Homo sapiens: one gene and its partner. The protein of the gene in region 1 binds, or shares a complex with, the protein of each later gene. Each region holds a gene or a part of one and is shown in the gene's direction. Other genes may lie near its edges.

Region 1 (3,748 bases):
ATCTAGGCAGGCTGGGTGCGGTGGCTCACACCTGTAATCCCAGCACTTTGGGAGGCTGAAGCAGGCGGATCACCTGAGGTCAGGAGTTTGAGACCAGCCTGGCCAACGTGGCGAAATCCGTCTCTACTAAAAATATAAAAATTACCCGGGCATGGTGGCGGGTGCCTGTAATCCCAGCTACTTGGGAGGCTGAGGCAGGAGATTTGCTTGAACCTGGGAGGCAGAGTTTGCAGTGAACCGAGATTGCACCACTGCACTCCAGCCTGTGCAACAGAGTGAGACTCTGGCTCAAAAAAAAAAAAAAAAAAAAAAAAAAAAGAGAGAGAATCTAGGCAAAGAGAAATAATGTTGATTCTGTTCCATATGTCAGACCTTGGAAGGTCAACTGCATGACTGTGGCTGAGACTTTGTACTTGGGAGTGTGCAGTTTTAAATCCTGACCACTATCTTAGGCAAGTCCCTTCTCTTTTCTGAGTGCCTGTCTGCTTCTTGCCCCATCAGACAGTTCTCACACAGGTTCATGGCAACGGTAAAGAATAAGATTAGACAGCACACTGGGTATGGCTTTATAATCACGGGCACTAAGTGATGATTTTTTCCTTATTCATTCCACTTGGTCTTAACTCTTACCCTTCTATTGTTTGGGGATGTTAACTGCAAAACAGGGACAGAATTTGGGCTAAAGGGTCTTTTTCCCAGTCTGGTAAATTAAGTATGTGATAAGACTTCTAGAAGAGTAGATTTAAGGTACTTTCTTTTGTGCACACTAATGGGAGGTGTGAAGGGAAAGCAGAATTGCAATTTCCAGCCTAGGGAGGCCAAGCCAGTCGGCCTTGCCAAACACGTTGTCTTGGATAAAGGAGGATTTTCAGTCCTGCTATTGGCTGATGGGGCCTCCAGTGCCTTCTTCAGCCTGTTGGTGGGGATGATGCCCTCAGAGCCGCAGAGTGAGCAGTCTCCTCCCAAGCATCGCTGAGCACTTGGGTGTGGAAGGGTTGCCTGATACTGAGGGTGGGGTTCCTGGAAGACAGGCGATCAGGTTCAGCTCTTGCCTTGCCCTTTATGGTTAAATGTTCTTTGGAAAGCTTCTATATCTTTCAAATCCTGGGGGCATTATGATCTCTCTTCTGCCTATCCCAAACCATCTTCAGCCAGTACTGTTGGGAGAATACAAGCTCCAGGGCATGGTCCCTGGTCCGTCTGGATGACCCCTCCGGATCTGGCATATAGCTGGCGCTCTATGGAACCAGATATTTATGTAAAAGCAGGGACAATGGAATGTGAAAACGTTTCGCAAACTCCAAAGCGATTCATAACCAGACAGAGGTCCAATCCTAGGGTATACGAGCTCTCTCTTTTAAGCACGTATCACAGCTGCTTCTCACGCCACCGAGACGCGGTCAGGACAGGTGCATCCATCTTCTCTGGGCTTCCCCTCTTGAAAGTAGGCCAGGGCGCGCAGGGGTTGAGGGTCTCTCATTCCCAGAGAGAATTAAACTTGGAGGAAAGCAACCACCGGCGAGGAGCGGGGCGCGTGGAAGCGAGCCGCGGTCCGAGGCCCAAAGAAAAGCCCAAGCCTCGCCCCCGCCATCGCGCCCGACGAGACACCTAGGTCCGGGGACGGGTGTGTGCCGCGGAAGTCAGGTGCACTGCGCAGCACTCCCCCGGTAGGTACACGCTCCTCCACCTACGAGTGACCTAATTACAAGGTGCCAGCCGCGCCCAGAGGTGGGGGTGGTTAATCCAAGCGGCCACTCGCTGCCCGTTCCTGCCCCCAAAGATGACGGAAACCCACACGATTACAGAGCCGCAGCACCCCAGATGAGCCACGGGGTCGCAATTCTCGTTTCCGTGATCGGACTGCCAGGCCCCAGGTGAGGAGCTGAGTTCATCACCAGAGCGGCCTTCCCAGGGGAACCAGTTACAGGCTGCCAGTGGCCCCGGCTTCCATCCGGTCTGCGCCTGCGCGCGGCCCAAGCCCTCGCCTCTCCTGGAATAGTGCTCAGGGATTAGTCCGGTTCGCCGCTGTGCGCACTGCGCATGCTCCAGCTCCATCCTTCCCTTCCCCCACCACCCCGCCCTCCGGGAGCCACGCCCAAAAAGTCAAGGCGCTTCAGTTACCAGCCGGCTACGTCGCGCCTGCGCTTTGACCCCCAGTTTGCGCCCCAACTCCGGTCGTGCGGCCGCCCGGGGAGGGCTCTGCAGTTGCGCAGCTTGCTCCCCGGCCCTTTTCCCCTCCGCTCCCCGCCGCCTCCTGACGCCGGGCGTGACGTCACCACGCCCGGCGGCCGCCATTACAGAGAGCCGAGCTCTGGAGCCTCAGCGAGCGGAGGAGGAGGCGCAGCGGCCGACGGCCGAGTACTGCGGTGAGAGCCAGCGGGCCAGCGCCAGCCTCAACAGCCGCCAGAAGTACACGAGGAACCGGCGGCGGCGTGTGCGTGTAGGCCCGTGTGCGGGCGGCGGCGCGGGAGCAGCGCGGAGCGGCAGCCGGCTGGGGCGGGTGGCATCATGGACGAGAAGGTGTTCACCAAGGAGCTGGACCAGTGGATCGAGCAGCTGAACGAGTGCAAGCAGCTGTCCGAGTCCCAGGTCAAGAGCCTCTGCGAGAAGGTGAGCTGTAGTACGGCTGCGGACAGCCGCCGCGGGGCCGAGCCCGCCGAGGAAAAGGCGGCCGTGAGGAGGGTGCAACATGGCGGAGGCCGCCGGTCCGGGCCCCCCGAGTCTCCGAGACCGGCGCCCATCCTGGCCGGCGGCGGCTTCCTAACGACCCGGCGCCCCCTGCCTCCCGCGCAGGGATTGGTTGCCGCCGCCGCCTAAAATGGCGCCGTTCACTCGACTCCTGGGCTTTTGAGTCAGCCGGCCTTGGCGCCAGACGAGGTGGCAGGGGGAGCGGAGACCCTGTGGGTCATCGTCAGGGACGGTTTTGAGGGTGAGCTGGCTTGGATTCTGCGGCTTGGGAATGGAGCCTGGGCCTCTCCGGTGGGCTGAGTAAGAGTCTTGCCGCTGGTACCCAGGCCTAGTTAGGTCCAGAGCTGCCCAGAGGATCCCCCAAAGGCAGTCTTGTTAGGCCGTATCCCAGAACATACCTAAAGGTCACACAGCTTTAGTACCCCTTGGTGGTTTGTATTAAACTCACCAAGCGATCTTCTCCAGAAATCAAGGTAAGGGGTGTCTTTAAGAATTTTTAAATTATTCTCTTAACCTAATTTTTACGAAGGTCATGGTGGTAGCTATAAGGGAGGAGTGTAACTTATTTTTCATAGTTGGAAGAAATCGGGAATTTGGTGAGTCATACTACATAAGGAGCTTTTGGATTGGAAATCAAGTGTCGGTTGAATATGATTTATATGCTGACTCAAAGCCTTCTCTAAGCTTAACACACTTGGCATTTTGCCGTTTATTTTTAAAATGAACAACATAAAATGGAAGAGCGGTAAATTTTGTATCTTTGTTGCAAAAATTACTTGATAGTATTTTGTGGCTGCAAGTAGTAGTAGTGATAATAACTGTCGACTGAGATTGTATTCCAGACATTGTGCTTAGTGTTTAAATAATGTCTCACATACACTGAAAATAGAATGTTGTAGTCCACTTAGTAACACTAAACTTTATATTAGCTAATTCCCTTTTGTTTTCCCCTGGGGGTTGGGGAAACAGGTAGTTAATTTAGCTATTAGCTTTGTGTTGTATTTTTAAATTCTTGTAACTCAGTTTTCTAAAGTACACAAAATGCTGATCTCTGCTGTGA
Region 2 (3,748 bases), on another chromosome or scaffold:
ATCTCTCGATATAGAGATCTTGCAATTTCTAACATAGGCCATTCCAGCACCAAAATTACGGCCATATTACTTGGGTTTAAGCCTTAATACTAATTTTCTGGAAAGCAGGCATTCCTATCAAAGCTTTCTACAAATTATAAGTAGCTCAGAGCTTTTGTTAGTTTATTACTCAAGCCTGTAATCCCAGCACTTTGGGAGGCTGAGGCAGGCAGATCACCTGAGATCAGGAGTTCAAGACCAGCCTGGCCAACATGATGAAACCCCATCCCTACTAAAAATACAAAAATTAGCCGGGCGTGATGGCGGGCACCTGTAATCCCAGCTACTTGGGAGACTGAGGCAGAATTGCTTGAGGCAGGAGAATGGCTTGAACCCAGGAGGGCAGAGGTTGCAGTGAGCCGAGATCACAGCACTGCACTCCAGCCTGGGCAACAGAGTGAGACTCCGTCTAAAAAGAAAAAAGTGCAGAGTGGAAGAATTAACTAAATATTCATTACAGCTAAGTTTCCATGTAAAGAGGAAAAAAATGAAGAGTCGGCATGACTTTCAAAACTTTTATTTTTTTGGCAGTGTAAACCTTTCCTTCCACTCAAAGCTGCATTTTTATAAAACAAGCAAAACAAAACAAAACACCGTTCTTATTCCAAGAAAATCTAACTTGAGCCCCAAAATAATTTTTTTATTTTTCTTTTTTATTTTATTTTATATTTTATTTTATTATTTTATTTTTATTTTATTTTATATTTTATTTATTTTTTTGAGACAGAGACTCACTCTGTTGCCCAGGCTGGAGTGCAGTCAGTGGCACCATCTCGGCTCACTGCAACCTCCACCTCCTGGGTTCACGCAATTCTTGTTCCTTAGCCTCCTGAGTAGCTGAGATAACAGGCGCCCGATACCACGCCCGGCTAGGTTTTTTTTTGTATTTTTAGTAGAGATGGAGTTTCATCATGTTGCCCAGGCTGGTCTCAAACTCCTAAGATCAGGCAGTGTGCCTTCCTTGGCCTTCCAAAGTGCTAGGATTACAGTTGTAAGCCACTGCACCTGGCCCACATTGACATCTTTTTGGGGGCCACTAGTCAACCCAGTGTTCGTTATTCAATACTGCCCGACATTGAAATTTGTGTATGATGAGGGTAAGGAACTACATTTGGGTTTGTTTGTTTGTGTTTTGGGTTTTTTTTTTTTTCAGACAGGATCTCACCACATCACCCAGGATGGAGTGCAGTAGTACGATTGTGGCTGACGGCAGCCCTGACCTCCCAGGCTCAGGTGATCCTCCTGCCTTAGCCTCCCAAGTAGCTGGGACTACAGGCATGCACCACCATGCCCAGCTAATTTTTTTGTATTTTTGGTAAAGATGAGATGGGGTTTCACCATGATGCCCAGGCTGGTATTGATCTCTTGGGCCCAAGCCTGCCTTGGCCTCCCAAAGTGCTGGGATTAAAGGCCTGAGCCACCATGCCTGGCCTGCATTCATTTTCAATTACGCATATCAAATGATCACAAAATTTATTGGCTTAAAATAGCAAGCATTTATGGCCTTTATCAAAGCTGCAGCTGCTTCCATGTAGCTGCTGTGGTCAAAAAGAAGCCAAGAGTGACAGTTTTCCTTGATGGTCATAGTTCTGTTTGCTGTAACTGATCTGCAAGATTTTGGGAAAATACCATTCCATTGGGAGGAAAAATGACAAGCATTTGTTGCCTTAGTTGCTGTGAATCCAGAATCTGGTCATGGCTTAGGTGGGCCCTCTGCTCAGGGTCTCTTACAAAGCTGCAGTTGGAGTGTTGGCCAGAAGTTGAGTCTCATATAAAGTGTCAGATGGGGAAGGATCTGCTTCTAAGTTCACATGTATGTTGGCAGAATTCAGTTTGTCAAGTTATGTTGGACTGAGAGCCTCAGTTCCTGGCTGGCTGTTGGCCAGAGCCCACCCTCAGATCCTTGTCACCCAGGCTTCTCCAGCATGGCACCTTACTTCATCAAAGCCAAGACAGCGAGTCTACTAGTAAGACAGAAGTCACAATCTTTTGTATCTTACTCATGAAGTGACATTCTTTCACTTTTGCCACAGTCTGTTCGTTAGAAGCAAGTCACTAGGACAGCTCACACTTAAGGAGAGGGGATTACACAAGGGTGTGAGGACAGTTAACAAGCTCATGAGATCATCATAGAAGTCTGCCAACCAAAGGAGCCTGCTACATTTTTCCTTTCTAAATAGTGAGCTACCTGTCCCAGTACCACCACTGTTTCCCATGGAACTGAAAGGCCACCTTTGTCATATATTAAAATCCATATATACATGAGTATATCTAGATACTCATATATATCTTTTCTCTCCATTTCTTTGCCAATATAATCTTGTTTTAGTTGCTGATATCCATAATACAGGTTCTGTTCCATTAACTCCCCCCACCAAAAAAACAATTCTTATTTGCTTATATTTATGGATTTTAGAATAAATGTTTCTAGTTCCAAAAAATAATTCAATTGGCATTTGATTGAAATTATATTAAATTTACTTATAAATTAAGTACAGGAAAAATATCTCTGCACAATATTGAACCACCTCACTTATTTACAGTCATGTGCTGCATAATGACATTTCGTTTAATAACAGGCTACGGGCCGGGCGCTGTGGCTCAAGCCTGTAATCCTAGCACTTTGAGAGGCCGAGGCGGGTAGATCACGAGGTCAGGAGATCGAGACCATCCTGGCTAACACAGTGAAACCCCGTCTCTACTAAAAATACAAAAAATTAGCTGAGCCTGGTGGCGGGCGCCTGTAGTCCCAGCTACTCAGGAGGCTGAGGCAGGAGAATAGCATGAACCCGGGAGGCAGAGGTTGCAGTGAGCCGAGATCGTGCCACTGCACTCCAGCCTGGGTGACAGAGCGAGACTCTGTCTCAAAAATAAATAAATAAATAAAAATAACAGGCTACATATAAAATGTCAGTCCCAGACAGGCGTGGTGGCTCAGGACTGTAATCCCAGCTACTTGGGAGGCTGGGGTAGGGGGATCTCTTGAGCCTAGGGGGTTGCAGTGAACTGTGATCACACCAGTGCACCCCAGCCTGGCCGACAATGCAAGTCTGGACTGTCTCTTAAAAAATAAAAATGGAACTGGGCATGGTTGCTCATGTCTGTAATCCCAGCACTTTGGGAGGCCAAGGTAGGAGGATTGGTTGAAGCCAGGACTTTAAGACCAGCCTGGGCAACAGAGCAAGACCTCGTTTCTACAAAAAGTAAAAAATTAAAATTAGCCAGATGTGGTGGCATACACCCGTAGTCCCAGCTACTTGGGAGGCTGAGGCAGGAGGATCATTTAAGCCTAGGAGTTCAAGGTTACAATAAGCCTAGGAGTTCAAGGTTACAATGACCTCTGATCATGTCACTACACTCCAGCCTAGGCAACAGAGTGAGGCCTCATCAAAAAGAGAGAGAAATGTTGAGAGAGAGAGAGAGAGAGAGAAATGTGATTCCAAGAGAAAGAAAAATGGTGATCCCATAAGATTATAATGCTATATTTTTACTGTACCTTTCGTGTTTAGATACACAAATACTATTGTTACAACTGCCTACAGTGCCTACGGTATTCAGTACAAGAACATCCTGTACAGGTTTGTAGCCTAGGAGCAAAAGGCTACACCATACAGCCTAGGTGTGTAGTAGGCCATACCATCTAGGTTTAAGTACACCCTGTGACATTTAAATGATGAAGTTGCCTAATGACACATTTCTTAGAACGTAT

The links. Proteins that work in one complex are often made in the same cells at the same time.
Region 2: the proteins of PPP2CA (region 1) and PPP2R5A are in contact, whole or in part, in a cryo-EM structure (PDB 6NTS), measured with the Homo sapiens proteins. Residues at the interface, in NP_002706.1 of Homo sapiens: Arg121, Gln122, Gln125, Tyr130, Asp131, Leu134, Ala140, Trp143, Arg268; in NP_006234.1 of Homo sapiens: Glu146, Glu147, Glu149, Thr281, Lys283, Lys316, Phe317, Trp318, Pro319, Lys320, Thr321, Ser323, Gln324, Lys325, Ser362, Ser363, His364, Phe365, Trp407.

The regions. Positions count from the first base shown.
Region 1 is NC_000005.10:134,224,622-134,228,369, reverse strand, and holds the start of PPP2CA (serine/threonine-protein phosphatase 2A catalytic subunit alpha isoform), read left to right. Parts: upstream 1-2,296; 5' UTR 2,297-2,508; coding exon 2,509-2,610; exon of another isoform or gene 2,611-2,613; intron 2,614-2,815; exon of another isoform or gene 2,816-3,161; intron 3,162-3,748. UniProt on the Homo sapiens protein: Catalytic subunit of protein phosphatase 2A (PP2A), a serine/threonine phosphatase involved in the regulation of a wide variety of enzymes, signal transduction pathways, and cellular events.
Region 2 is NC_000001.11:212,351,279-212,355,026, forward strand, and holds part of PPP2R5A (serine/threonine-protein phosphatase 2A 56 kDa regulatory subunit alpha isoform), read left to right. Parts: intron 1-1,539; exon of another isoform or gene 1,540-1,672; intron 1,673-3,748. UniProt on the Homo sapiens protein: The B regulatory subunit might modulate substrate selectivity and catalytic activity, and might also direct the localization of the catalytic enzyme to a particular subcellular compartment.